4 separate regions of the Homo sapiens genome follow, and regions 2, 3 and 4 are each reported to be linked to region 1. The links are microRNA targets in miRTarBase. Many come from high-throughput screens and were not tested one by one. Region 1 holds a microRNA gene; each other region holds the end of a gene's coding sequence.
Evidence for each region. The annotated mature microRNA hsa-miR-26a-5p reads UUCAAGUAAUCCAGGAUAGGCU and lies in region 1 at 5,750-5,771, shown strand. An mRNA with a match to its seed (bases 2 to 7 or 8) in the 3' UTR can be bound and repressed. Matches are read on the target gene's strand: a 7mer-m8 pairs with bases 2 to 8, a 7mer-A1 pairs with bases 2 to 7 and ends in A, and an 8mer does both.

Region 1 (8,028 bases):
GTTGTTGGTTTTGTTTGTTTGTTTGTTTTTGTTGTTGTTTTTTTGAGACGGAGTCTCACTCTGTCATCCAGGCTGGAGTGCAGTGGCGCGATCTTGGCTCACTGCAAGCTCCATCTCCTGGGTTCACGCCATTCTCCTGCCTCAGCCTCCCAAGTAGCTGGGACTACAAGCACCCGCCACCTCACCTGGCTAATTTTTTGTATTTTTAGTAGAGACAGGGTTTCACCGTGTTAGCCAGATTGGTCTCAATCTTCTGACCTCGTGCTCCACCCGCTTTGGCCTCCCAAAGTGCTGGAATTACAGGCGTGAGCCACTGCACCTGGCCTCTATCCTGAAGTTTTTAGGCAAATTGGGCTCCGTTCTGCCTCCACTAAGCCAGTATCTAGGGAAGCTGATGCTAAACAGAACTACAGCTCCACTAACTCAAAGGGGACCAGGTTTCTCCGTTGTCTGGAACCGATGGTCTTCCTGGGAATTGACGTTAGGGAGGATTTTTGTCTTCGTGAATTAATTTTGAGTGTGCTGCAGCTGGAGCAGCAGAACACCTTGATTCTATGCCTGGCCCCATCTTCCCCGATGGAATGAAAAACAAATGCTCTGTGGCTCAGGTCTCCCAAGCCAGAGAGTGGGGATTCCTGACATTCCTGCTTTAAAGAGAAAAGGCTGGAATAAACATGTATGTTTGACTGTTAACTGTATGTGGTTGTTCACCAGCCGTATACTGTGTGCCCTAGTAGAGTTTACAAACTAGAAGAGCTATGGGCATGGTAGTATCTGTGGACAGAAACTGATGTCCCTAGAGCTAAAGCCTCTGTCATTCTCTCCACCCTAGGCCTGGTCTCCAAGTCCTCTCCTAAGAAGCCTCGTGGACGTAACATCTTCAAGGCCCTTTTCTGCTGTTTTCGCGCCCAGCATGTTGGCCAGTCAAGTTCCTCCACTGAGCTCGCTGCGTATAAGGAGGAAGCAAACACCATTGCTAAGGTAGGTGGGTTGGGGTGGTAAGATGCCAGCAATGAAGGGACTGTTAATGGGAGATCCCTGCAGACGATGGCAACCGGACAAGGAAGCTTTGCCTGAAGTTGCAAAGATTTCTGGCTGAGAGGGGGCCCTTCCTCCATCCTTCCATAAGTAGTGTATTTCCTTTCTGTTCCTTCCCTTTTGCGGTGTGGGCCATTCACATGTCACTGTGGTTTCTGAGGGCCCCTGTGATCCTGATCCTTCCAGGTTCCAGGAACTAGGCAAGGTGCTTTGCATATATTGTCTCATGTGATCCAGCCAGCAGCCCTGTAAGGAGATCACAGGATTCACACTTTGCAGATATGGATTTATGTAGAGGGTTTATGTAGCACCTGAAGAGTTCATGGTTAATAAATAGTAGTGTCAGGATTTGAACTTAGATTTCTCTGGCTCTAAAGCCTGTGTTGTTGTTCTCAATTATGCAAAGCTAACTTCCAAGTTACCTGAGTTACAGGGAACCAAGGAATTGAAACTCTACCATGCTGTTAATAACTCCTGTCAGCAGTTCTCTCCCATACTCATGCAAGGCATTTGGGATTTTGTGGGTATTTTTTATATGTCTAGTATTTCACAGGTGGGGCCAGCCCCGACCAACAAAAATTATTCTGCCCCAAAAGCCAGTGGTACTTCTCTGAAACACTGAGGTCTGGTTGTCCTTCCTTTTTCTCAAGACCAGGCTGAAGACATACATCAGTGAAAAATCACTGCATTTTGCAGTAGGGGAAATGGTTAAATAAAATACAACATGACAGTATTACTGAGTGATTAGCTTTTACAGAGTTCTCAATAACATGGAGAAGTATTGAGTTGCAACATTAAGTAAAAAGGCAGAGTGTGTAATTGTATAGCATTCTGGAAAAAGTCTGCGGACACAGATTTGAAGGCAGTACACTGAATGCCACATTGTTTATCTAAGTGCTAGGATTTTAATTTTTCTTCAAAGTTTTCATTAAGAACACTTAAAACCATAACTTTTTTTTTTTTTTTTTTGAGATGGAGTTTCGCTCTTGTTGCTCAGGCTGGAGTGCAATGGCGTGCGATCTTGGCTCACCGCAACCTCCGCCTCCCGGGTTCAAGCGATTCTCCTGCCTCAGTCTCCCGAGTAGCTGGGATTACAGGCATGTGCCACCACGACCGGCTAATTTTGTATTTTTAGTAGAGACGGAGTTTCTCCATGTTGATCAGGCTGGTCTCGAACTCCTGACCTCAGGTGATCCGCGCGCCTCGGCCTCCCAAAGTGCTGGGATTACAGGCATGAGCCACTGCGCCCGGCGGTCATAACATTTGTATTAGCAAAAATTGGGGTGGGGGGCTTGCTGATCTCTCTGCACTCCCTCCCCTCACATTTTGGGTACCTACAATGTGGCTTACTTGATGTTTTATAGGGCTTGTTCCCCCACATAACCCCTAAGGAGGGCATGGAAAACAACATGTTCTCAAGGAGAAGCCTGAGTTTAAGGACTTAGCGAGAGTTTGCCACTGTGAGGAATTCAGACTTTGGTTCTGCCTCTGACTCTGTGTCCCTGAATCAGTTACTTGAGTTCCCTGTTCCTCACTTTGTCCAGTTGAGAGGCAGTGGCAGCCGAGAACAGGGACACTTGTCTTCTCCATCCTTCATCAGGCCTAATGTGGAAAGGAAGCTCTAGCCTTTCCCTTTTCCTGCCCCACTCCTAGGAAAAGTCACTTTTGACATGGTAGGAGCTTCCAGGTGGCTGGGTCTGGGGGAGAAAGTTGCCCTCCAGGCTTAAGACAGAAGCAGTGGGTTTGGATGGGGTGGGAAAGGCAGTGAGATGGCACTGACCACCTCCTTCTCTTCCTCAGTCGGATCTGCTCCAGTGTCTCCAGTACCAGTTCTACCAGGTACGTGACTCTGGCCTGGTAAGTACTCAGAAGCCAGGATCCTGTGATCCCTGCCAGCTCCACGGGCAGGGTGATGTGCATAGTCCTTGGTGCCTAGCCAGCCACCTCCCTGACCTGGGAAGCCATTTGTTCCCCATACTTGTTGAGGGCCTGCTATGTGCAAGGCATTAGATTTTAGGGGACAGCTGGTGCTCCATGCCCTCTTCCCACAGCTGCTGTCCATCCCACACCTGCCCTGGCCACCACCTCCAATGTCCAGATCACTTAATAGTCCCACTGGGAGGCTGAAACCAAGGAAACAACTCCACCTCCTTTCTTCCTGGCCTTTAAGTGGTGCCTATCCTGGGTTGGTGATTGTGTCTCCACAAACAACCCAGCTCTTCCCATAATTATGCCAAGGGGTACAATTGGGCTTTCTTGGTAGGCAGATCTCAGCAACCTGGCTTGGTTTTAGATCCCAGGGACCTGCCTGCTCCCAGAGGTGACAGAGGAAGATCAAGGAAGGATCTGTGTGGTCATTGACCTCGATGAAACCCTTGTGCATAGCTCCTTTAAGGTAACTCAATGTCTGGAACCCTTCCTACCTTTATCTTGGGCCTTCTTGTGAATCTGGCAACAGATGTGTAAGGCAGCCTAAAGGTGAGGAAAGAAGAGTGATTAGAAGGGAAAAGGCCAGGCCTCTGGCATTTTGGCCACCCTGTGTCACAGGTATCTAGAGGCCCCACTGAAGAATGTTGAGTAGGAACCCTGTGTGTTCCACCAGGGCTGCTATCTCCAGTCACTCCCAACAGGCTGCATCTGCCCCCGAGCCACATAGCACAGAAAGCCAGCCACGAGGGCTCTGTACAGGGCAGGCCTAAAAGAGTGGTTGGATCACCTTTGGCCCTTGCCCCTGCTTGTCTCCTCAGGAAACTCAGGCCCCAAAACTCTCAGCCCAGGTAGAATTTGTCAGAGTGGAGGTGCTAAGGAGTAGGGAAAACCAGAATGGGGTATCACATCTTGAACTAGGGTGAGAACCCCTTAATGAGGTGGCCAGAGGCACTTCCAGGAGTCTTTAAGACCTGTTTCTCCCCACCCACCTAGGGGTATGGTGGGGGCCTCATGTTTCTTTGCCACCATGCTGACAGCATTAACTTTTCTGCCTTCCAGCCAATCAACAATGCTGACTTCATAGTGCCTATAGAGATTGAGGGGACCACTCACCAGGTGAGCTGCCAGCCAGACCACACCCAGCCCAGAGGGTGGGGGGTCTGCCTTCTGCCTCACCTGTACTGGGGTCCTCCACCCATCTCAGGGCTTGGGTTCTGTCAGTTGATCCCTTTTCTATAACTCCAGCCTCCCCTTTTTATTGGTATCTTTCACTCAAGGCTTTCTCACCTTAAAAAAAGAGTTTCAGCCCCATATCCCACCCAGCTGTCTCCCTTGTTTTCTCTTTGCAACCAAGCTGTTTAAAAGAATAGTTTACATTTTATTTAATAATAATAATAGCTATCGTTTGTTAACCACCATCCCCTCACGTGGCCAGCACTGTTAAATGATTTATTACATTTCTCTGTTCCTTAAGAAAGGTATCTATACCTGTTAAGATACCTTAACCAGGTATCTCTTTGCCTGTAACAGGCAGGGAAATCAGTAGTAACCATTTTCTCTGCCCGGAATGCCCTCTTGCCCATGCTCCCCCTGCCACCCCCACTGTGAATAGCTAGTGACTTTCTTCCTCCCCAGCCCAGACATCTCCTCCTCTGTGAAGCCTTCTCTGACTGCCTTCCCTGGGGCCCTCCATTGGATTCTGCCTGAGGAAGTGCTCAGTGTGTGTCTGTCAATGTAAAGAGCACTCAAATCTAAACAGACCAGGCTCCAGCCTGCAGCCCAGGCAGTCCCAGGTTAAGGATCATGTGACACTGCTAGTGAAAGACCATTTACTCAGCTTGCTTGCCCAGAAGGCCTGCCATGCCCAGCGCCAGGCCCCGGTCAGGACTAGGCTTGGTCCAGCAGCCCTTTGACAGTCTAGCTGAGGGTATAGGGATGTGCTAAACCCTTGTAGAAAAGATGAAGGCATATTTTCAAACAGATATACACTGTGAACTCCTGGCTAACAAGGAAGGGTATGAATAATTTTTAAAAGGATGAGATTAAAATGAGGGAGCACTACCTGCCCAAGGTGGGTGAAAGGATGCCAGACTTGATGAAAGCTGGGATGAGGAAGGGGCTTGTTGGAGGTCGAAGGAATGGCAGGCTAACAGAAGTTAAGTTGTGGCTGCCTAGAACAGAGGGTTCCTGCAGAGCTCTGAGTGGTCTGGTGAGTTGGTGGCCAGTTCAGGCCTACTCTAGGAGGGAGAGTCACAGCAGGCCGACTCTCTTTGAGCTCGGGAGTAATGCAGGTAAAGGAGCTTTGGGAGTCAGGTGCCGTGGCTTACACCTGTCATCCCAACACTCTGGGAGGCCAAGGCAGGAGGAATGCCTGAGCCCACAAGTTCACAACCAGCCTGGCCTCACATAGCAAGACCCCATCTCTAAAAAAAATAAGTAAATAAAGAAAAGAAAAAGGACCTTTTTGGAAATGGTTCTAGTAGCAGCTGTGTAGGCTAGAGTCATGGAAGCAATAGAATGCAGACCGATGGGGGGTCAGGTGGCCAAAGGACTTCCCAAAATGTGCAAGATCGTAAGGGTGGACAAAGGTGTTAGTGGTGGCTGGCAGAAGCAAGCACAAGATCGGGTGCAGAGCAAGACTCGGCAGGGTGTCTGTCTAGTCTATGGTCATTGAGGGGAAAAAGTCACTTCTCCCTGGTGCAATTCATTACCTAATCATGACCTGGACAGACTGTCCTGTCGGAGCCAAGGACAGAAAGCTCCCATAGAGGCTGTGGCTGGATTCAAGTAATCCAGGATAGGCTGTTTCCATCTGTGAGGCCTATTCTTGATTACTTGTTTCTGGAGGCAGCTGATGGTCCGCCGCCGGAAACAGAGATGGCTCCTGGGACATGGTGTGTGCGCTTCTTCCTGAGCCAGGTTGAGGTTGGGACCACTGATCCATTGGAAGCCTGGTGAGGGGTACAGCCAGTTCTCCGGGTCTGTGGGGTCTCAGGGGGCCGCAGGCTTCCAGCCAGGTAGCCCAGGAGGCTGGGCTGCAGGGGTTGAGAGCTCCTTGCTGCTGTGTAACTGGTGAAGGTACCCAGTACTGCAAACCTTCATCACAGGGATGCCTCCAACAGGCTGCTCTGCTCTTCCTCAGGTGTATGTGCTCAAGAGGCCTTATGTGGATGAGTTCCTGAGACGCATGGGGGAACTCTTTGAATGTGTTCTCTTCACTGCCAGCCTGGCCAAGGTACCTAGGGGTGAGAGGGAAGAACCAGGAGTGGGTGTGGTGGCCACGGGGGTGGTCCAGCAGCTCCCTTTTGGTCCCTAGGGTTATACAGGAGGACCAGGAGTGTATCCAAACTAAGGCATCTTCTCTCCTCCTAGTATGCCGACCCTGTGACAGACCTGCTGGACCGGTGTGGGGTGTTCCGGGCCCGCCTATTCCGTGAGTCTTGCGTGTTCCACCAGGGCTGCTACGTCAAGGACCTCAGCCGCCTGGGGAGGGACCTGAGAAAGACCCTCATCCTGGACAACTCGCCTGCTTCTTACATATTCCACCCCGAGAATGCAGTGAGTGCTCCTGATGCGTCTCCACGGTAGGGATTGGGAGAGGAAGCAGACTGGAACTGTGGGCTCCACCAGAGAAGTACACCCCTCCAGGAAGACCCAGCCACCCTCTAGGGCTCTGGGGCGAGGGAGGGGGAAGCAGCAGTCGGGAGATTGACACCACATCTTCCCCCCACCAGGTGCCTGTGCAGTCCTGGTTTGATGACATGGCAGACACTGAGTTGCTGAACCTGATCCCAATCTTTGAGGAGCTGAGCGGAGCAGAGGACGTCTACACCAGCCTTGGGCAGCTGCGGGCCCCTTAGCCTGCCCTGCTTCCAAGCGACGGCCATCCCAGTAGGGGACTTTCCCACACTGTGCCTTTACGATCAGCGTGACAGAGTAGAAGCTGGAGTGCCTCACCACACGGCCCGGAAACAGCGGGAAGTAACTGGAAAGAGCTTTAGGACAGCTTAGATGCCGAGTGGGCGAATGCCAGACCAATGATACCCAGAGCTACCTGCCGCCAACTTGTTGAGATGTGTGTTTGACTGTGAGAGAGTGTGTGTTTGTGTGTGTGTTTTGCCATGAACTGTGGCCCCAGTGTATAGTGTTTCAGTGGGGGAGAAGCTGAAAGACCAAGACTCTTCCCAAGTTAGCTTGTCTCCTCTCCTGTCACCCTAAGAGCCACTGAGTTGTGTAGGGATGAAGACTATTGAAGACTCCATTGCCAAACCATGGCCTTTCCTCAGTGTTGTAAGGCCTATGCCAAGGATAAAGGAAGGGTATGCCTTTGGGTACTCCAGGCACACACCTTTCTGAAATCCTTCTCCAGCCAGCTGCTGCAGACAAAAGATCACATTTCTGGGAAGATGAGAACTTGTTTCCAGACCAGCATCCAGTGGCCATCAGGTCTTGTGGCCCAAAGGCTATGCTTGCCTCCGGCTGAGTGCCTGGGATAGGCCTTTTCTATGTCTCCCCAAGGCTGGGGTGCTGAGCCTGCCTTCCTCACCACCTAGCCATAGTCTCAAACCTGTGGGGAAGGAGGTTTTCTCCCTGCCCGGGAAGAGGACAGATAACTGATTTCCGTTCTTTTGACTGTGTTTTAAAATTCTCTTTCTAAACACAGAGTGTTGGGCCTGGTTTGTTTCTGACAAAGTTACAGTCCTGGGCCTGTAATGAATGTCGGCGGCGCTGGGGTTGCAGGGAAAAGACAAATCCTCAAAGCGTGGACGTGTGTCCCCATGGCTTGTGGATCAGCTAAGCTCGGGATCATTTCCATAAGTCTGCTTTTCAGGGATTCTCTGCTGGTGCTGGTGCAAGGACTTCTGTTCCAAAGGCTGGGAAAAACTAAGCTGTCCCAGCCCCTCCCATTTCTTGGGCAGGGCTCTTTTCCTGTTGTGTCTTCCCCCAGGGCCTGTCCTGTACCGAGCTCTGTCTGTTCCAGCCTTCATCCTTCCTGGCTGTTGCTTTTCCTCTTAAGGGCCTCAGAACTCTTGCTCTTCCTGGGCTGAGGGGGAATGAGTG
Region 2 (8,028 bases), not on the chromosome of region 1:
TTGATAGAAAACTCACAGAATTGGAGAAATATTTACTATTCCTTTCTTTCTGCTAATACCACTAATCATTTTCTATGAAAGACCTGTTCTTTTTTTGAACTTATGAATAATGTTAGAAATGGAACATGATGTTTTAAATGTATACATAAACCTTCCAATTAATTATCAGGTGATCCAGTAGTAGACCTGTGACCTCTGAAGGCTCCTGCTTCTCATCCCTTCCCTTCTGCTGTGATTTGTTGTCTTCCCTCTGCTCATTCCCCTTGTGTCTGTTTCTTCCATCCTCTCCCCATGCTCCCTCTGTTGTCATTTCCCCTTACTCTCCACTCTTTGCCTGCGCTCTCATTTTCCAAATTTTTGTTGTTCCAAAACTAGGACAACAGATCTTCCTGTTGTCCCAGTTTTTCCCCTTGTTTTTCTCCTATTTTATGTCCAATTAATATTGTGAAGTCAGGCCGGGTGCAGTGGCTCATGCCTGTAATCCCATCACTTTGGGAGGCCAGGGCAGGTGGATCACCTGAGGTCAGGAGTTTGAGAGCAGTCTGGCCAACATGGTGAAACCCCGTGTCTACTAAAAAAATACAAAAGTTACCCGGGCGTAGGCCAGGCGTGGTGGCTCACGCCTGTAATCCCAGCACTTTGGGAGGCCGAGGCGGGTGGATCACGAGGTCAGGAGATCGAGACTATCCTGGCTAACATGGTGAAACCCCGTCTACACTAAAAATACAAAAAATTAGCCGGGCGTGGTGGCGGGCGCCTGTAGTCCCAGCTACTCAGGAGGCTGAGGCAGGAGAATGGCGTCAACCTGGGAGGCGGAGCTTGCAGTGAGCCGAGATCACGCCATTGCACTCCAGCCTGGGTAACAGAGCAAGACTCCATCTCAAAAAAAAAAAAAAGTTACCCGGGCGTGGTAGCATGCACCTATAGTCCCAGCTACTTGGGAGGCTGAGGCAGGAGAATCACTTGAACCTGGGAGGCGGAGGTTGCAGTGAACTGAGATCACGTCACTGCACTCCAGCCTGGGCGACAGAGCGAGACTCTGTCTCAAAGGAAATAAAAATAAAAATATTGCAAAGTCATTTTGCAGCCGTGTAGAAGCTTCTCGGGAAACTGTCGCTTGACCCACCTGTATATTCAAAAGAAAAAGGTGCGATTTGAATTTTCTATTTATTATGTCAGGTGGTGAAAACAGGAATGAGAACGAGGAGTCAACCTCAAAGGCTGAAACCTCGGAAGATTCAGCATCACGCGGGGAGACAACAGGAAGATCCCAGAAAGAGTTTGGAGAGAAACGTGACCAGGAGGGCAAAACAGGAGAAAGACAGCAGAAAAACCCTGAGGAGAAAACCAGGAAAGAGAAAAGAGATTCAGGGCCAGCTATAGGAAAGGACAAAAAAACCATCACAGGAGAGAGAGGTCCAAGGGAGAAGGGGAAAGGATTGGGAAGAAGCTTCAGTCTGAGCTCCAACTTCACCACCCCTGAAGAAGTTCCCACGGGAACAAAGTCTCACAGATGTGATGAATGTGGTAAATGCTTCACGAGAAGTTCAAGCCTTATCCGCCATAAAATAATCCACACTGGAGAAAAGCCCTATGAATGTAGTGAGTGTGGGAAAGCCTTCAGTCTTAACTCCAACCTTGTCCTGCATCAGAGGATCCACACAGGAGAGAAACCTCATGAATGTAACGAGTGTGGCAAGGCCTTCAGCCACAGTTCCAATCTCATCCTCCATCAGCGCATCCACTCTGGAGAGAAACCTTATGAATGTAATGAGTGCGGGAAGGCCTTCAGCCAGAGCTCGGACCTCACCAAGCATCAGAGAATTCACACGGGGGAGAAACCCTATGAATGTAGTGAATGTGGAAAAGCTTTCAACCGAAACTCATACCTGATTTTGCATCGGAGAATTCACACTCGAGAAAAGCCCTACAAGTGCACTAAGTGTGGCAAGGCCTTCACCCGCAGCTCCACCCTCACTCTGCATCACAGAATCCATGCCAGAGAGAGAGCCTCTGAGTACAGCCCAGCCTCCCTTGATGCATTTGGCGCGTTCCTGAAAAGTTGTGTGTAAAGGAAGAATTTGCCATCAAGCCATTTCCCCCTTTTGTTTCTAAAATTATTTCAGAGATGTGTGCTCCTGGAGGGAAAAAGAAATACAGCCTCAACAGATTAAAAAACAAAAGTCACACTTAAGGATCCTTCTAGTCACATCAGCAGTGTTCTGCCTTTATGTAGTAGTTGGGCATATAATCCTTCCACACAGCCCCTGCAGGGAAAGGCTAATCTTACGGATAATCCACGTGAGATTTCCACACAAGAGAAAAGCACACGCATAGTGAAATGTCAGTCTTTTCAGTAATGAGGATACCTTTAAGGCACTCTTGGACTCTCGGCAACCACAACATAATAGTTGAAAGATCAAGATTGGCTCCACGAAAGTGATACGGAGGTTAGGATGCTACTTGCTGCAAACAAGCCCTACTTTGGCCAACATCCTGCTTATTTCTCAAAAAAGAGGGACAGTGAAAACAAAAACGACATTGGGACATGCTGCTCAAGGTAGTTATATATACGATAAGTTGTATATATGATCACTGGTAGCCTACCAAAGCTGTAGAAATCTAGGACTGTGCTAATCAGTATCAAACCAAAGATTTCTATCTCTTCCCGAAAGAGAGGGTATGTGCACCAGTCTACAGTTCCAAAGGACTGCAACAAATGTAGATGGTTCTGTCCTCATCCCTGAGATCAGTTCTACTGAAATGGCAACAACAACTCCAAATACATCTCTCCCTTCTTGAAATCCCTAAAGCACTATCGCACTCCTAAATGCATTTCTCCACAAGTTAGCACTTGATTGTATACTGTCTTTTAATCCTTCATTGTTTCATGTATGAAGTTTTTAATCACCCCCTAACCCCCAAAAAAGATTCGGTTGTCAAGGGATATATTTCTATCCCTGCCAGCACAGTGCTGGACATAGTGAGTACTGAACACCTAAGAGGCACTCATTCAGACTGACTTCTACAGGACTTCTACGTGTGTGATAAAAGCCTGTGAATCGTGAGTCCCTGAAATATGGTAGCCTGGCCCAGCTTCTAAAGAGGACCTTCGTAGCCACAAGGCATGCTAAACCTCTAGGGTCTGATGCTGTTTTTGTTCCAAATATAAACGAAAGGCACTAGTCAGCCGCCTGCATAGACTTTCTAAACAGTGAGTAAATACCATGGAATGTCAGAAATGACTTTATCATCGTCATCTTGAAGAAAAATATGAACACTGATGAAGGTCATTTTTTTTTTTTGACATCTTTCTGTGGCAAAGCTCTTAGAATTCTTTGCAGTTAGCTGCTGAACAGTATGATGATTTGGGGATTTTCTGAATCATTTGTACTTAGATACTGGAGTTCAGAAGATGTGATTTTTGTTGCTTTTCAGAAAAAGGAACGTGGTAGGGAGTGTTTTTTCCCACGCTTTTCCAGTAACTTTGCAAAAGCATTAATTGTTCACTGGCAATTACTAAATGTATTTTGTTGCTCTGAGAAACTCAGCAGTGTACTGAGATGTGGCTGGCTGTGCCATCGTCATAGTGCACAGTGACTTTTCTGTTTCTTATCACTAAAGACTGAGGTGAGGTTATGAAACTTTCATTGGTCCCATCGTTGTGCGCAGGGTGCAACTGGCTACCTAGAAGCTGATGGCAGGAGACTGTTTCACACACAGGAGATTGTGAGCTGTGTAAGTAGTCATCGCCACTCAAGTAGGACAAGGGTCCTACCCAAGGCTAGGACCGCCCTGCGGAAACAGAAACATAGACTGAGAACAAACCTCAAGACTATCAGTGTGACCTCCCCATAACAAGAGAACCCCATATATAGTTTGAGACTTTCCCTTGAGAAACTTATACTAAAACTATTACTCATCAGTCATTCACTGATCAGCAGCTAAAGTCCATGAGACCAAATGGTTTTATATGGAACCAACGAAGTGGGAGCTAAAACTGCACAGTGGTCATTCTTTGGCCTCTCCTTGGCTTTATGACTTAAACCAACTACAACTTCCCTATAGCTTCTAAGCAGTTTCATCAGCATTACTTGGGAAAACGTGTTGCAAGTCAACCAGTCACTAGGATATTTCTACCCATGCAACGGAAGAAAAACCCATTACTCCAGAAGAGTATATCTAAGTAACTAAAATGGAGGCAGAAAATGTTTTAAGGATTTTCTTCAAAGAATAAGCCACAGCAATGGTTTTGTAGAAAACTCCTGTGCTTTTGAGCAAGGACTTTTGCCCTCTAGAAAGCAACTGAGGCCAGGTGCGGTGGCTCACGCCTGTAATCCCAGCACTTTGGGAGGCCGAGGTGAGCGGATCACCTGAGGTCAGGAGTTTTGAGACCAGCCTGGCCAACATGGTAAAATCCCGTCTCTACTAAAATTATAAAAATTAGCCGGGCATGATGGTGGGCACCTGTAATCCCAGCTACTTGGGAGGCTGAGGCAGGAGAATCACTTGAACCCAGGAGGCAGAGGTTGCAGTGAGCCAAGATTGCACACTGCACTCCAGCCTGGGTGACTAGCAAAACTCCATCTCAAAAAAAAAAAAAAGAAAGAAAGAAACTGAAAAGTGAGGTGTGGAACTCCAGGCAACGACCCAAGCACTTATTTTTTAAGAGGGAAAGGACTTTGGTCATGTTTACATTGGCCTTTGGTTTTTTTTTTTCTTTCAGCCACAACTATATGCTGATATAACTCAGCCATCACTTTTGAGTTTTGTTTTTAAATGAAGGTTAAATGTGACCTGTGCCCTCACATTTAATTCCGTTTCATGGAGACATCTTCCTGACTTTGTTGGATAGCTGCCACTAGGGTTGCTTCGATCTTCAGCCACATGCTGTCCTTGAAGCAGCTATTTGAAGATGTGTTTTCTGAGGAAAACAGGCTACAACTGTTTATTAAAACCACTTGCAGTGCATTCGTTTATCAGATGCTCAGTGCAAAGTGTAATTGGGTCATGGTCAAAAACGCTTGCAACATCTAATTGGCGTTCAAGATAGTCATTCAAAAGTTCTTGGCCCGCTGAAGTCTGTTAACAGTTGAAACATTCTACAGTTAACCATTAGCATGCTAGTTGTCCTAATGGAAATTTTTGAAGAGTTTTTCAATATATACCCTACCCTTGCCAGGAAGAGAAGTAAAATCCTCAGGTTGTGGGGTATTTGTTTCTACTCCAGCCTGGCAGGCAAGGCTAAAACCTGAGATTATCGATCTATGAGACATCTTGATATGTAAAGCACTTAATATTAAAGGCATAAAAGTGAAACTGCTAAATATGTATAGAGAGGTTGACGTGTGATACGTGGGACAGTTCACATAGACATCAGAGAATTTATTCCAGAAAGGAGCCTCCTGAATGTGATGAATACGGCAAAGCCTTTAATCACATCTCAGCCCTTAGCATCGGAAAGCTTATACTGTAAATAAACTTGATGAATATTATATGTGAGGAAAACTTTCATGTATAGCACTCATTGCTTCAGACAGAAAATGAATTCCGTCGGTATGTTCCAATCGTGATGAATTTGAGAAACATTGCAAGAGGGAGCTCAATCTTGGCCGGGCGCCGTGGCTCACGCCTGTAATCGCAGCACTTTGGGAGGCCGAGGCAGGCGGATCACGAGGTCAGTAGTTCGAGACCAGCCTGGCCAACATGGTGAAACCTTGTCTCTACTAAAAATACAAAAAAAAATTAGCTGGGCACAGTGGCGCACGCCTGTAGTCCCAGCTACTCGGGAGGCTGAGGCAGGAGAATGGCTTGAACCTGCGAGGCGGAGGTTGCAGTGAGCTAAGATCATGCCACTGGCACTCCAGCCTTGAGTGACAGAGCGAGGCTCTGTATCAAAAAAAAAAGTTGCGGGGGGGTGCTCAATCTTAACTGCAGAGGATCTACAGATGAAAAAAAATGTGGGGAAATGCTTTAAAAAAATAGCAAAATGTGCAACTTCTTACAAAAATTGTTAACGTTAGGTACTTCTATATATTTTATATGACCATAATGTCCGTGTGTGTTTTGTACCTTCAGTCCCTTGTTATTGTTCCGTATATTACCTGTAAGCAGATACTGTATTTTATTTTAGCCTATTTGACAGAACACATCACTCAGAAAAAGTGAAGTTTCAGAGCAAACAGTGAAGAAATCAGTGTGATTGTAGACAAAAAGTCGGTTCACAGAACGGAGCAGCGGGGAGAGGAAGGGAAAAGCTTCATAGTTTGGTGCTTATCACATCAAGAGATTGGTAAATTTCTGAGGAAAGACAGGCTAATGGGGCACTGAAATGGAACAACTCCTTTAAACGTGCAGCCTTTTGAATTTTTCCTCAAAACCAAGAAGTTGACCTCTGAGCTGTCAGGTGACCACTGTGTGCAAAGGGGATGGATTCTCTTGTCAGTAGACGGTCTTCTCCATGAAGCGAGAGTAGGAAGTGTACTGGAATGGCCAAGTGGGACTGCTTCAGCTGACCAGGTTCTTTTAAACCGTAGTCATGCTTTCCCACTAACTCTTAAATCCTTATGCTTAGAAAATTGAGGATAAGGCTGGGCACAGTGGCTCAGGCCTGTAATCCCAGCACTTTGGGAGACCAAGGCGGGTGGATCACAAGGTCAGGAGATCGAGACCATCCTGGCTAACATGGCGAAACCCCGTCTCTACTAAAAATACAAAAAAATAGCTGGGCGTGGTGGCGGGCGCCTGTAGTCCCAGCTACTCAGGAGGCTGAGGCAGGAGGATCACTTGAACATGGGAGGCGGAGGTTGCAGTGAGCCAAGATGGCGCCACTGCACTCCAGCCTGGGTGATGGCGTGAGACTCCATGTCAAAAAAAAAAAAAAGGTTGGGGGGAGGATAGGACTGGCCAGGCACGGTGGCTCACTCCTGTAATCTCAGCACTTTGGGAGGCAGAGGTGGGCGGATCACTTGAGGTCAGGAGTTTGAGACCAGCCTGGCCAACGTGGTGAAAGCCTGTCTCTACTAAAAATACAAAAATTAGCCGGGCGTGGTGGTGGGCGCCTGTAGTCCCAGCTACTCAGGAGGCTGAGGCAGGAGAATCACCTAAATCTGGGAGGCAGAGGTTGCAGTGAGCCGAGATTGCACCACTGCACTCCAGCCTGGGTAACAGAGACTCTGTCTCAAAAAAAGAAAAAAAAAAAAGAAAGAAAGAAAGAAAATTGGGGATAGGAGAACAGCAAGGTGGGCATTTCCCGGAATTGTGTGCAGATGCATCCAGTCGTGGCATTGCAAGAAGTCTGTCTGATGAAGCTCGGGAAGCATTTTGCAATATTCCCTTTGGCTGTGTTCCTGTGTTCCCTGCTCCCACTTTTCTTCCCCTGGTTTGTGATTATTAGGAGAGAGGTTTTGCAAAGACTCGTTGCTGTGAAAGAATCTTTTTTTAATTTTTATCCTAGAGTCAGTCACTTTTATTCCAGGTAGTCATGCTGATCTGCTTATCCAAAGCCAGCTAACCAGGTTCATCCTACCATCCTCATGGAAGACTGTGTGTATGAATTGGAGTAACAGAACTGAAATACACTTAAACAGTGACAGCAGTACTTCCCAGGGTGGGGGCCATATTTCTCTGTGTCCTACTCTGAGCAACTTCTCAGAGATACGAGGGGGCTAGGGTTTTCCCATCTGGGAAATGGGGTGAAAGTCTGCAGATTGTTAAATGAAATATAGAATCAGAGAAAAAGAAAAGTCAGTGATATAAATAGATCATTTCATAGAAATTAGGGTAGATTTTTATTTCAACTACTACTGGAGAATTTAATAAAAGGCATTATTTGAAAAGTTTTTCTAACATAGATTTAGGGTTTTTTTTTTTAGAGTGGACACACTACATTTAAAAGCAATTATTTTGCTATTCAGATTTTTTATTATCTGAAAATGAAATTATCTGTTTTACTTTTCAAAGCTTTGTGAAACAAACTTGAAGTTATAGGGAGGTAAGCCATCTCCAACTCTGCAGGTCAAACGAAAG
Region 3 (8,028 bases), not on the chromosome of region 1:
TACAGAATATGAAACAAAAATTGGGGGAAAAAATGGATAGCCTAAAAAAGTTAAGTGATTTTCTCTGGTAATAGGATTTTTCATGTATCGTAGTTTCTATAAGTAGTTGTTACTTTTAAAACATGGTGGCTAGCTGAGGGGAAACAATCTGTATTAAATGATTTATGCTTATTGTTTAGTATGTATGCCTTCAGTATAGAAATACTTTGTGCTAGGCCGGGCGCGGTGGCTCACGCCTGTAATCCCAGCACTTTGGGAGGCCAAGGCAGGCGGATCACGAGGTCAGGAGATCGAGACCATCCTGGCTAACAAGGTGAAACCCCGTCTCTACTAAAAATACAAAAAAAAATTAGCCGGGCGTGATGGCGGGCACCTGTAATCCCAGCTACTCGGGAGGCTGAGGCAGGAGAATGGCGTGAACCCGGGAGGCGGAGCTTGCAGTGAGCCGAGATCGCGCCACTGCACTCCAGCCTGGGCGACAGAGCGAGACTCCATCTCAGACAAAAAAAGAAAGAAAGAAAGACTTTGTGCTATTTGTGCTATTGCTCAAAACTTAAATTTTCAGTTTTCTGATAAACTCTGCAAAAGTTAAGCTTATAGTCTCTCCCTTTTTTATTAGAGTCCTCTGTTTTTTCCCCTCATAAAGGAAGAAGAAAAAGGATGAGGAGGAAAAGTATTCCTTGATAATAAGTAAAGAAGATTTTTTTATTAAAACTTTTTAATTCTCGTAACACTATTCAGGTGTTGTTTCTGAATGTCAACAAGAGAGATCTCAGCTGAAAAATAAAGAGCTGGCTATGACAAAGTTACGTGCAAAACTGTACAGCATGCATCTAGAAGAAGAAATAAATAAAAGACAGAATGCTAGAAAAATTCAGGTAAAAAAAGAATTTTAAAAATGCTTTTAAAGGATAGAAATATTTTTATATAACTCAGCTTTTTTTAAATAACTTGGTTTTTATATATTTGTTTTAACCTGTGTTGAAAACAATTCAAGTAGTCTAAGGGCTATCCTTCTTTGATAGTAATCTTACATCTCTGCCCTGTTTTCTATATTCAAAGGTATTTTTCTCAGACTTTTAATCCGTTACTAAAAATAAAGATATATACTGAGTCCTCATTCATTTTTAATCCTTTGAAATTTTAATTACGCAAGAAAGTTGGAAAGCAAACTCAACTTGGCTTTCTTCCTGTTTTTTTCTTCCTGTATTTAATTTTTGTTGTTGTTGTTTGTTATTGACATGGAGTTCCGCTCTTGTCACCCAGGCTGGAGTGCAGTGGTGCGATCTCAGCTCACTGCGACTTCCACCCCCTGGGTTCAAGCAATTCTCCTGCTGCAGCCTCCTGAGTAGCTGGGATTATAGGCGCCTGCCACCACACCCGGCTAATTTTTTGTATTTTTAGTAGAGACGGGGTTTTGCCATGTTGGGCAGGCTGGTCTCGAACTCCTGACCTCAGGTGCTCCACCCACCTCAGCCTCCCAAAGTGCTGGGATTACAGGTGTGAGCCACCGCGCCTGGCCGGTATTTAATTTTATAACTACAGAGCCTTTTAAGAATTCCTCAATATGGGAAACTCACCACCTTGTTACCACGGAAGATGACTGCATTAATTCACAGAGATTATATGTATTCAGCGACTATAGGAATAGCATCTATGTGCCAGGCTCTATTGTCATCATCACTGTGTAGTAGACACTGTATTTTGCAGATCGGGAAACTAAGTTGCCCGAGGTCATAGAACATTGAAGTGGCTGAGGCAGGATTCAGATATTAATCTGATTTTAGAGCACGTGTTCTTTTTTCTATATCATGTTCCCATGTCATTTGAGATTCTAAGTGTTTAAAACCTGGTTCTCGCATTTGATTCATGTTATAAATCAAGAACTTAAGTCTCCAAATAAGTTAAATTTGTAGGTTTAAATTGCCCTGAATCTAGCTGCATCTCATCTTTTTCTCTATATACAGATTGGAAGTAAAGGAAGATCAGAGAAAATAAGAACATATAATTTTCCACAGAACCGGGTCACAGATCACAGAATAAACAAGACGCTGCATGATCTTGAAACTTTTATGCAAGGAGATTATCTACTGGATGAACTTGTACAGTCATTGAAGGAATACGCCGATTATGAATCTTTAGTAGAAATTATTTCCCAAAAAGTTTAAGTTGATTTGTTATTTATAGACTTTCGTAGCTTAGAAAAATTCTACAGTACATCCACATAGGGTGAAAGTACCCTTACTCTCTTGAAAAACGTTGAGTTAACACAGTTGGAGGTAATATGCATATTCTGAAGTCATAGATAATTTACACAGATCTCTCTCAATGCATTAGCAAAAATCATACAATATACAGATGGTCCTCGATTTACATTGTGGTTAATTCCCAATAAACCCATCATAAGTTAAAAATGCATATAACGTTAGCAACACAGCAGTCTCCTAATTAATGACAGCTTGACTTAACAATTTTCCAACTTTACCATGGTGTGAAAGAGGTATGATTCCTAAGCCCTAAGGAGCTCCTCAGCTTGAAATGGGGCTGCATCCCTATAAACCCATCATAAAGTCAAAAAATCCTAAAACATAAGTTGGTGACCATCTGTAATCATGATGTGGTGGTAAATCTTGGACGCTACCTTACAATAACTAGACAAAGGAAAATCATCCTTTGTCCTGTTCTGTGTAAATATTTAATGAATGATCAAAACTTCAGTTTAAATATTATGAAAAACTTTAAACATAAAGTAGTAGAAATAAGACAGTAAATACTGTATCCTAATATCCAGTCAGGATACAGAAACCATACCATTAACTTGAACAGGGATAATTTTAATATAAAAACTGTTAACTGATAATGGTATTAACTTTTAAGAGGGATGAAAGAGAGCTATGATGTCCTAGGACTGAGAGTACCCCAGGAAAGAATACCCTTGAAAGGGTCTCCCCTTCCCCATGGTGAAGTCAGGCCTAATGGAGAGAGTGGCTACAGCCTACTCAGTGATTGGGAAATTCCCTGTCTTGCCCTGGGCCAGAGCTGGTGTACCGCTGGTGGATCAGGTCTTACAAGCAAAGAACCTCACACTCCCAACTGGTAAGCCAGAAGCCTCTTGCTAGGGTGTGAGCAAAACTTGGACAGGAACTCTCAGTAGATGTTTGTGTTTGTCAAGATTCTCCAGACAAACTTCCTTAAAAGGATTGGCTTGTGTTGTTATTATTAAGTCTAACAAGTCCAAAAGCTGGAGTGTGAGGCAGGAGGCTGGAAACCCAGGAAAGCTGATGGTGCAAGGTCCAGTCCAAAGGTATCTGTTGGAGGATTCTCTTGTTCTGGGAAGAGGACGGTCTTTTTTTCTCTTCAGACCTTCACCTGACTGGATCAAGCCCACTAACATCGAGGAGGACAGTCTGCATTACTCAGAGTTCACTGATTGATTTAAATGTCAATCTCATATAAAACACCCTCACAGAAACACCTAGAATAATGTTTGACCTTATAATTGGAAAATCAGAGCAAAAGTTAAATCTCAAAAAAAAAAAAAAAAAAAGTATGACCCAGTAGCTAGGCACCTGTGGCCCCGCCAAGTTGACACATAAAATTAACTGTCACAGTATCATCTTAGAAGTGAAAGAAGCCCCTTTATCCTGCAGTGCCCCTCTACCACCACCTACTGACAAAGAACATGGTGCTATCTGGCATGGGAGAAATGTTCAGTTTGCTATGGCTTGTATGTGTCCCCTCAAATTCAAGTGTTGCCAATGTGACAGCATCAAGAGGTGGGGTCTTTAAGAGATCACTAGGCCATGAGGGATTCTCTTAGGACTGGGATGAAGGCCCATAATAAAAGAGGTTTCGGGGAGCATCCTGCTAGCTTGCCTTCTGTATGTGAGAACACAGCAAGAAAGCCCTAGTCAACAAGTGCCAGCTCCTTGATCTTAGACTTCCCATCCTCCAGAACTGTGAGAAATACATTTCTGTTCCTTACAAATTACCCAGTCTCCTGTATTCTGTTATAGCAGCACAAAATGAAGATACCATACCTGAACACCTGAACATTCTTCACAAGGTAGTAAATGCACTGCTTTATTCTGGTCTCAGTATTGTGTGCTTAATAAGGAAATGAGAAAGGGTGGATCAGGGCATAGGATGAACAAGTTACTGCTAGACCTCTCACAATGCCACTAATGGATAAGATTGTATTTTCATCATTCTTGTCTCTTCGGAAGCTAACACCATGCTATAATAGGCACTAAATAGATGTCTAAAAACACCTTAAGTATTTGTCTAGAAATCTGGTGCATTGTTCAGAAAGAACCAAAATTCAAAATAATTTCAAAGGGCCTAAAGCACTAGTTAATCAAAATTCATTAGTTTTTAATGGTACTACCACTCTCAAATTTAAAATGTCATCTTACGTTCCTCTTCCTCGCATTGGATTTATTGCTAAAACCTGGTAAACACTTTTAATCCTTTTCAATTCCATTACCACTGCTCTTGTCCAGAATTACTTCGCAGACTAATAGTCACCTGACTTCTCCCCTGCATCCGATTTGCTGTCTAATTCTGGTTACAAATAAGTAACTGCCAAACTAATCTTTCTAAAAAGCAAGACTGATCTCGTCACTCCTTTGCTCAACAATGTAAAAGCTCCCATTGTCTCCCAAATAAAACCAGCTTTCCACTGTGTATACAATACATCCATGATCTGTATCCAGCATCATTTTGTATTAGCTCACTTTATACACCACCCCCCATGCCACATCAAATTAAATTATCCTGATAAATGCAACTGCATTTACCCTTTCCCTTATTTTGTTCTTTATGTTGTAGGCCTCCTTTGTGCCCATTTCTTCAGAAGACATCCCCTACAGCCATGGTTCTCATCCAGAGGGTCTTTTGCCCCCGCAGGAGACATCTGACAACGTTTAGAGACAGTTACCACAACTGGAAGATGGAATAAAAGAGATGCTGCTAAACATCCTACAACAATTATCTGGCCAAAAATGTGCTGAGGTTAAGAAACCCTGTCCTACAGATTATTCCCTTATCCTGGTACATAGAAGTAACTCCTTTTTTTCTATGAAAATTTCCACAATTTTTTTTTTTCTTTTTGACATGGAGTTTCACTCTTGCTGGCCAGGCTGGAGTGCAATGGCGTGATCTCGGCTCACTGCAACCTCCGCCTCCTAGGTTCAAATGATTCTCCTGCCTCAGCCTCCCAAGTAGCTGGGATTACAGGCACCCGCCCCCATGCCTGGCCAATTTTTTGTATTTTTAGTAGAGATGGGGTTTCACAATGTTGGCCAGGCTGGTCTTGAACTTCTGACCTCAGGTGATCTGCCCACCTAGGCCTTCCAAGTGCTGGGATTACAGGTGTGAGCCACCAGTCCCGGCCAAAATTTCCACAAATTTAAATGTATTTGACTCATCCAGTGTTCCACATAGCTTTATTTTATACACCTTACCCCCACAGATATGCCTGATTGGTATTCAGAAATTATTTACTGAACACCTATTATGGCTATTATGTGGCAAGCCCACAGATAATAAGCACAAGGGCAGGTGTCATGTCCCATTTATTTCCATATATCCCATTGTTTTGCATGTGATAGGTCTGCGATAAGAATTTTACGAAAGAATGAGGGCAGTTCTCTCTGCACTTCATGTTCCACCTAAACACCCAACAACTGATTGATGCTGATTTGAAAAATGAGGTGTATACATCTATTGGCTTCTAGTAAAATTCAGAATGTCCCCTTGCCCTTTATTTTTTGGTCGCCAGGCTGGAGTGCAGTGATGCGATCTCAGCTCACTGCAACCTCTGCCTCTGGGCTCAAGCCATCCTCCCACCTCGGCCTCCCAAGTAGCTGGGACTACAGGTATGCACCACCATGCCTGGCTAATTTTTGCTTTTTTTGTTTTTGGTAGAGATGGGGTTTCACCATGTTGACTCCTGGGCTCAAGCAATCCTCCTGCCTCTGACTCCCAAAGTGCTGGGGTTACAGGCATGAGCCACCACACCCCGCCAGAGTGGCCCTAACTTTCTCACTTAGATGAGAATTTTAACAGGTGCCAGTGAACTGAACCTATCGACAGTTATGAATAATATAATAATTAAAGCTCAAACATTATTTAATGTCAATGATGCAGTAACCCAATAAGCTGAAAAAAAAAACCTAACAAATTATTCTAGCATGCAACAAAACATGCTTGGTTCTTTATATTACATTATGACAGAAATTTTGATTTCTCCAATAATATATCAGCCTTTTTCTAGAGAATAAAAAAACTGCTGAAGAACAAATCTAAGCTGAGGATAAGATCCAAAGGTTATATTCCAGATGCTCAGCTAATTTAATGAGCCAGGCTCGGTGGCTCATGCCACCCAGCACTTTGGGAGGCCGAGGTGGATGGATCAGTTGAGATCAGGAGTTCAAGACCAGCCTGGACAAAAAGGTGAAACCCCGTCTCTACTAAAAATATAAAAATTAGCCAGGCGTGGTGGCGCATGCCTATAATCCCAGCTACTTGGGAGGCTGAGGCAGGAGAACCGCTTGAACCAGGAGGCAGGGACTGCAGCGGGCCAAGATCGCGCCACTGCACTCCAGCCTGGGCTACAGAGCGAGACTCAGTCTCAAAAAAATACAAATAAAAACTAATGTAATGAGAAACCTTGCCTGCTTCGAATTTTGTATTTATGCCAGCATCTGAAAATAGAAGAGGTGAATACAATTATCTCTAAGGTCAAACTGTGAAGTAATGTGAAATGTACTAAAACCAACCAGGACTCCAGCAGATAGTGTTATAGGCTAGCATAGCATAAGAGGAAAGGACATGGACTTTTTGAATCCTGCAGACGGGCACTCGAATCTCCGCTTACTAGCTGTGTGGTTTTGGTAGCCACAGTGAGAATTAACTCACACTGAGAAGCACGACCATTGTACACTGAAAATAATGCTAACCTATTGTGAGAATGAAAGGCTAACATTTACATTCTTTTTTTTACATAAAAAAGCTATTATAATTTCAATATTCTATCAACAAATAACTACCTTGCCAAAATCCTTCCAACAGCTAACCACTGCAATCAGAAGAAAGTCTAAACTCTGCATGGAAAAACTACAAGGTCCCACAGGATCTGGCTTCTGCCTACCTCTCTAACCTCATCTCCTCTCTCTCTTGTTCACTAAGTCGTAGTCAGGCATTCCCTCTGCTTATTATTCCCTCTGCTTATTATGCAGCCCTGCATTGCCAGTTCAACGCATCTGGGTTCAAAGCCTCAGAAAGCGTCCTGACCATCCAAAATCCTTAACCTATACTAATCTGCATTCTCTACCCCCGATTACATTCTTTCATATCCTCTTTCGTGTTCTGAAATTGTTCACTGTCAACTTCTTTCCCATTGGTCTCTGTAAACTCCCTAAAGGACAGGACTTTGTCTTTTCAACCCTGAATCTCCAGGATCTAGCCCCAGGGCCAGGTTAGGGTGAGGCAAGGAAGCACAGGCCTCAGGTGCGTTTACGGGGATGAAAAAAATTTAAGTCATCAAGAGTGACACTATTTTAACATTTTTAAAAATGAAAAAGGCAAAAAACCCATGATGAACTAATTATCAAAATTTTAGGTAAAGACAGGATCCACCCAGCACTTGTATGATTCATCCTAATCCTGGCCGCGCCCCACAACTAATTATCAAAATTTTAGGTAAAGACAGGATCCACCCAGCACTTGTATGATTCATCCTAATCCTGGCCGCGCCCCACCGGACTCGTCACTAACGGTACTGAAAACTGACTACAGCCAAGAACTCACTCCGAGGCTGCAGAAAGGCACCAGAGGGAAACAGCAAAGGAGGATTCGCCGTTTTGGAGTTCACATCCCGTTGCTTCACTGGGCTGTAGCCATAAAGCTGAGTTCAGGGAATGCACTGCCCTACTTAAGTGCATATTCAAATTGTGAAAAGTTAAGCATCACTAATACTCCGGTACACTTTCATACTGACGTCCATGCCAGCCATCACTAAAAACT
Region 4 (4,000 bases), not on the chromosome of region 1:
CCTCCATAGACAAGTTTGTTCCCTATCATTTTTAGGCCCAGAAGATAATTTATCCTGAGTGTTGACTAATAGAAGCCTTTCATCCTCCTTGGTTACACCAGGGTTGCAGCATAAAAATAATTGACTTTTGGGCTTAAGTGATGAATAATCCTATTTTCTTCCTAACCCCTTTGTTGAAATACCACTATATACATATATTTGTATATATAATAAATATATATACTATTTATTTGTGTATGTGTATATAAATAGCATATATATACACACACACTGTTTTATCTGAAAACTTGCTTGACCCTTCATACAGTATAAAGCCTGAATTTTTCAACTGAGGACTTTTCCAAGCCTGCTAAAGTAAATTTGGTTTGAGTTTTTGTTTGTTTGTTTGTTTTAATCATAGATTTCTGGAGCTCAGTGTAAACTGTTCTGGCATATGTAAATTACATTTTAAATAAGTTCTTTGAAAGTTTTCATATAAATAGGACACAACTTTTTTATAATACTATCTGTTTAGCTAGTAGTTCACTTATTTCATATTAACCTTGAGGCAACTGTTGGCCAAATATGGCAGTTTTAAATAACATGAAGAGTCTTATGTATTTATGACTTTTTGATTATAAGAAACAGAATTAAAATTAGAGCTGACATCAGCCAAATTTGATCGAGATTTTTCACGTGTGACCTCTCATAAATCAATTCTGGAAGGGGTGGTGTGGTGGATAAGGTATATGGGGGACATTGGATAGATAGAGAAGATAAGAAGGATTAAGAGAATCCTTGTAGTTCAGAAAGACCCCCACCAAAAAATCCTTGTAATTTGGGAAGACATATTCCAAATGTATTGAATAGTTTCTGAAAACAAAATCACAATGCCAAAGAATTATCTTTAATTTTTGAACTTCTAGTAAATTGATTCTACTTGAATGATTAAGAAAACCCATGTAGCCGGGCGCGGTGGCTCAAGCCTGTAATCCCAGCACTTTGGGAGGCCGAGGCGGGCGGATCACAAGGTCAGGAGATCGAGACCATCCTGGCTAACAGGGTGAAACCCCGTCTCTACTAAAAATACAAAAAATTAGCCGGGCCTGGTGGCGGGCGCCTGTAGTCCCAGCTACTCGGGAGGCTGAGGCAGGAGAATGGCGTGAACCTGGGAGGCGGAGCTTGCAATGAGCCGAGATCGTGCCACTGCACTCCAGCCTGGGCGACAGAGCGAGACTCCGTCTCAAAAAAAAAAAAAAAAAAAAAAGAAAACACATGTAACCCAGAATATAATATTAAGAGGAAAGATAACAGAATTCAACAGCAATAGCCCTGTGTTCCAACATGAAAAAAACTTCCCTCAATTGAATTTTGCTTTAATGTGACATACTATTTGTATCCTTTGGGATAGAATTTAACTTCAAGCTTTGTTTAAAGTGGTAGTAAAACAGACCTTCTTTGAGGGAGAGAAAACAAAACATGTTCAGTTAGTTTGCTGTGATGTGATGGTATTTACAAGGCTCTTTTATTAATTCAGCAGAATTTGGAATTAAATGGATGGCAGCTATTAACTTGGTTCTGGAACACTCAGCAGGGCCACTGTAAGTAAGCATGCCTTAAAACATGAAACTTGTCCAAATAAAGGGTGACATAAATTTTGTAGTATAATTTAGTTTTAAAAATAAAACTAGGCAAATTACACCAGTGGACACATCAGGAGAATGTCCACAATTAGAGAATTGCTAAGATGTAGCATTACAACATGAAAGAAGTTGAGAGAAAATGTCACAACTGATGTGCACGGAGTGATCTCCTTTGTTAAAAAAAATGGGTGATGCTATCCATCTTCCTAGTTAGTAACCAATTTCCACACAGTTCTTTCACTTCTATAAGGTCTGACAACCTCTAACCCTTCCATGGATACTTACTTTTTCTCATATTATTATATAATTTTATTTAGAGTAAGGTCACATAGCTCTGAAAATAATTGTGAAGTGTATTGGGGCATGTATTAGTCCATTCTCATGCTGCTAATAAAGGCATACCCAAGACTGTGTAATTTATAAAGAAAAGAATTTTAATTGACTCACAGTTCAGCATGGCGGGGGAGGCCTCAGGAAACTTACAATCATGGCAGAAAGGGAAGCAAACACGTCCTTCTTCACATGGCTGGAGCAAGGAGAAGTATGAGAACTGAGCTAAGGGGGAAGCCCCTTATAAAACCATCAGACCTTGTGAGAACTTACTCACTGTCACCAGAACAGCACAGGGGTAACCACCCCCATGATTCAGTTACCTCCCACTGGGTCCCTCCCACAACATGTGGGGATTATGGGAACTACAATTAAAGATGAGATTTGGGTAAGGACACAGACAAACCATACCAGGCATAAACCACGTCTCATATTCCTTTTCTGCACTTCACAGGGCCTTCCTATCTGACCATGGAACACACAGAAAACACTTGATAGATACCAACTGATTCTTATTGAAGTACCCTGATATAGACTAGAAGCATTCCACAATATACAGATAAAGCACTCAGCATTAGGTGGGCTGTGGTATACCAACCACAAAATAATATATTTATTTTTCAATATTTTTTCTTTTATTGATAAAAACTACACAAAAGCTAATTGATAATTAATTTAAAAAGCAATGTTACACATTATCTTGTGTTTAGAAATTTGTCAGCTTGGCAGTTTCATTCATTGAGCCCATGGTCATATCTCTCTTATAGCCTTAGTCCACATGAGAATGATTCTGCTGGTCTTCTCATTCGGAGATCTTCATGGCTCTCTCAGGCATCCTACACAGTGAGGGCTGCCAATGGGACAAAACAAAATTCCTTCTATCATGTACCATATATGGCATTTGTCATGAAGGGTCATTCACCCAGACTTATTGGGTTTTCCAGTAGTTTTGTCAAACTTTGTGGTCAACTTTCTCCGTGGTCCGTGGTAAAGCACATTTTCTTTTGGTACAACATAAGCTTTAATGCTCATGTTTTGTATTAGAAACTTGACCAGGAAAGAAAAAAATTAAAACAAACAAAACAAGAACAAACAGCATTTTTAAAGAAAAAATAAATGAAAGCAATTTAAATAAAATCTGTGAGAATTACACACACCTAAAGAGGAAAACGGTTGTTTCCCTAGCTTCCCACCCACCCCTGTTTATTTGCTCCCCTGTGGTTCTCCAGCCCAGGAACCATGCAGTGTAGAAAAATCAAATATACAAACAAACCTATATGTAGCTAGGGTGAAATCTATTTTTATAAGAACTTGACACTCTTACTATTTACATCCGGGAGCATTTTTGTTTGTTTTATGTTTTAAAGCAAAGAAAGTTCTGCAGTCCTCCCGGTAATGCTGCAGGTGCATTCGCTGCCCTCTTCAAGCAGTTTTTTTTTCTCTTTTTCTTTTCTCTATGCCATAAATGTTTTAACAGGAACGATGAGCTTGCTCGATTGCGCGATTGTGGACACCCATTCTCCTTTAAGATGAAGGCCCTCCCTCCCCCCCATGGAGCTCCCCAGTGAGGAGTTGGCTTCAGCGTTAGTTTGCAATTCTCTCTAGGTAGATGGCCGGTGCTGCCGACCTGGCGATGGTGGCGATGAAGCTGTGGTCTCGGCCCAGCTCCAGGCCGGGGCTTTCGTCCTGCTCTGGAGACACTGTCTCATAGCCCTTGGTGACATGGAGTGGCTGGTGGGCCTGGCAGTACCCGATCACAGGCTGGTCATAGCTGTAATATGGCAAGGGCTTCATGTGGTGTGGCATCTGGATATGAGAAATAGAAAGATGGGTGGATTATAAAATTGCTTTGGAAAGATAGGACAGCACTCATCAGGTTGTATTTTTGTTCTCTTTCATGCTGTTTCAAGTCATCAGCTACAAATTCAACTACAAATAAACATTAACAAAATGATGATTACTATTTAACTCAATATTGTTTTGTCAGCATATTATGTGTATAGACTTTGTACATAAAACAGTATCTTTCAACTTTTCATTGCTCTAGC

Region 2: the mRNA of ZKSCAN1 is a reported target of hsa-miR-26a-5p. Seed matches in the 3' UTR shown: 7mer-A1 at 4,508-4,514, 7mer-A1 at 6,785-6,791 and 7mer-A1 at 7,976-7,982.
Region 3: miRTarBase lists MTRF1L as a target of hsa-miR-26a-5p. Seed matches in the 3' UTR shown: 7mer-A1 at 2,817-2,823.
Region 4: miRTarBase lists LRRTM4 as a target of hsa-miR-26a-5p. The part of its 3' UTR that is shown has no 7-base or 8-base seed match.

What each region holds. Positions count from the first base shown.
Region 1 is chr12:57,822,401-57,830,428 of GRCh38, reverse strand. It overlaps MIR26A2 (microRNA 26a-2), which reads left to right and starts at 5,737; the gene lies at 5,737-5,820. CTDSP2 (CTD small phosphatase 2) reads left to right here. Exons shown (of 8, transcript NM_005730.4): 2 at 833-981; 3 at 2,839-2,877; 4 at 3,332-3,433; 5 at 4,027-4,083; 6 at 6,110-6,202; 7 at 6,340-6,525; 8 at 6,702-8,028. The coding sequence ends at 6,827.
Region 2 is chr7:100,032,126-100,040,153 of GRCh38, forward strand. It overlaps ZKSCAN1 (zinc finger with KRAB and SCAN domains 1), which reads left to right. Exons shown (of 6, transcript NM_003439.4): 6 at 1,180-8,028. The coding sequence ends at 2,072. Among named protein-coding and RNA genes, the nearest start is that of ZSCAN21, 14 kb to the right of the region's middle. RefSeq lists enhancers at 5,205-5,706, 5,707-6,206.
Region 3 is chr6:152,984,035-152,992,062 of GRCh38, reverse strand. MTRF1L (mitochondrial translation release factor 1 like) reads left to right here. Exons shown (of 7, transcript NM_019041.7): 6 at 742-878; 7 at 1,968-4,701. The coding sequence ends at 2,168. Among named protein-coding and RNA genes, the nearest start is that of FBXO5, 5.0 kb to the right of the region's middle. RefSeq lists an enhancer at 7,429-7,528.
Region 4 is chr2:76,745,159-76,749,158 of GRCh38, forward strand. LRRTM4 (leucine rich repeat transmembrane neuronal 4) reads right to left here. Exons shown (of 4, transcript NM_001134745.3): 4 at 2,527-3,758. The coding sequence ends at 3,537. Among named protein-coding and RNA genes, the nearest start is that of LRRTM4-AS1, 240 kb to the right of the region's middle.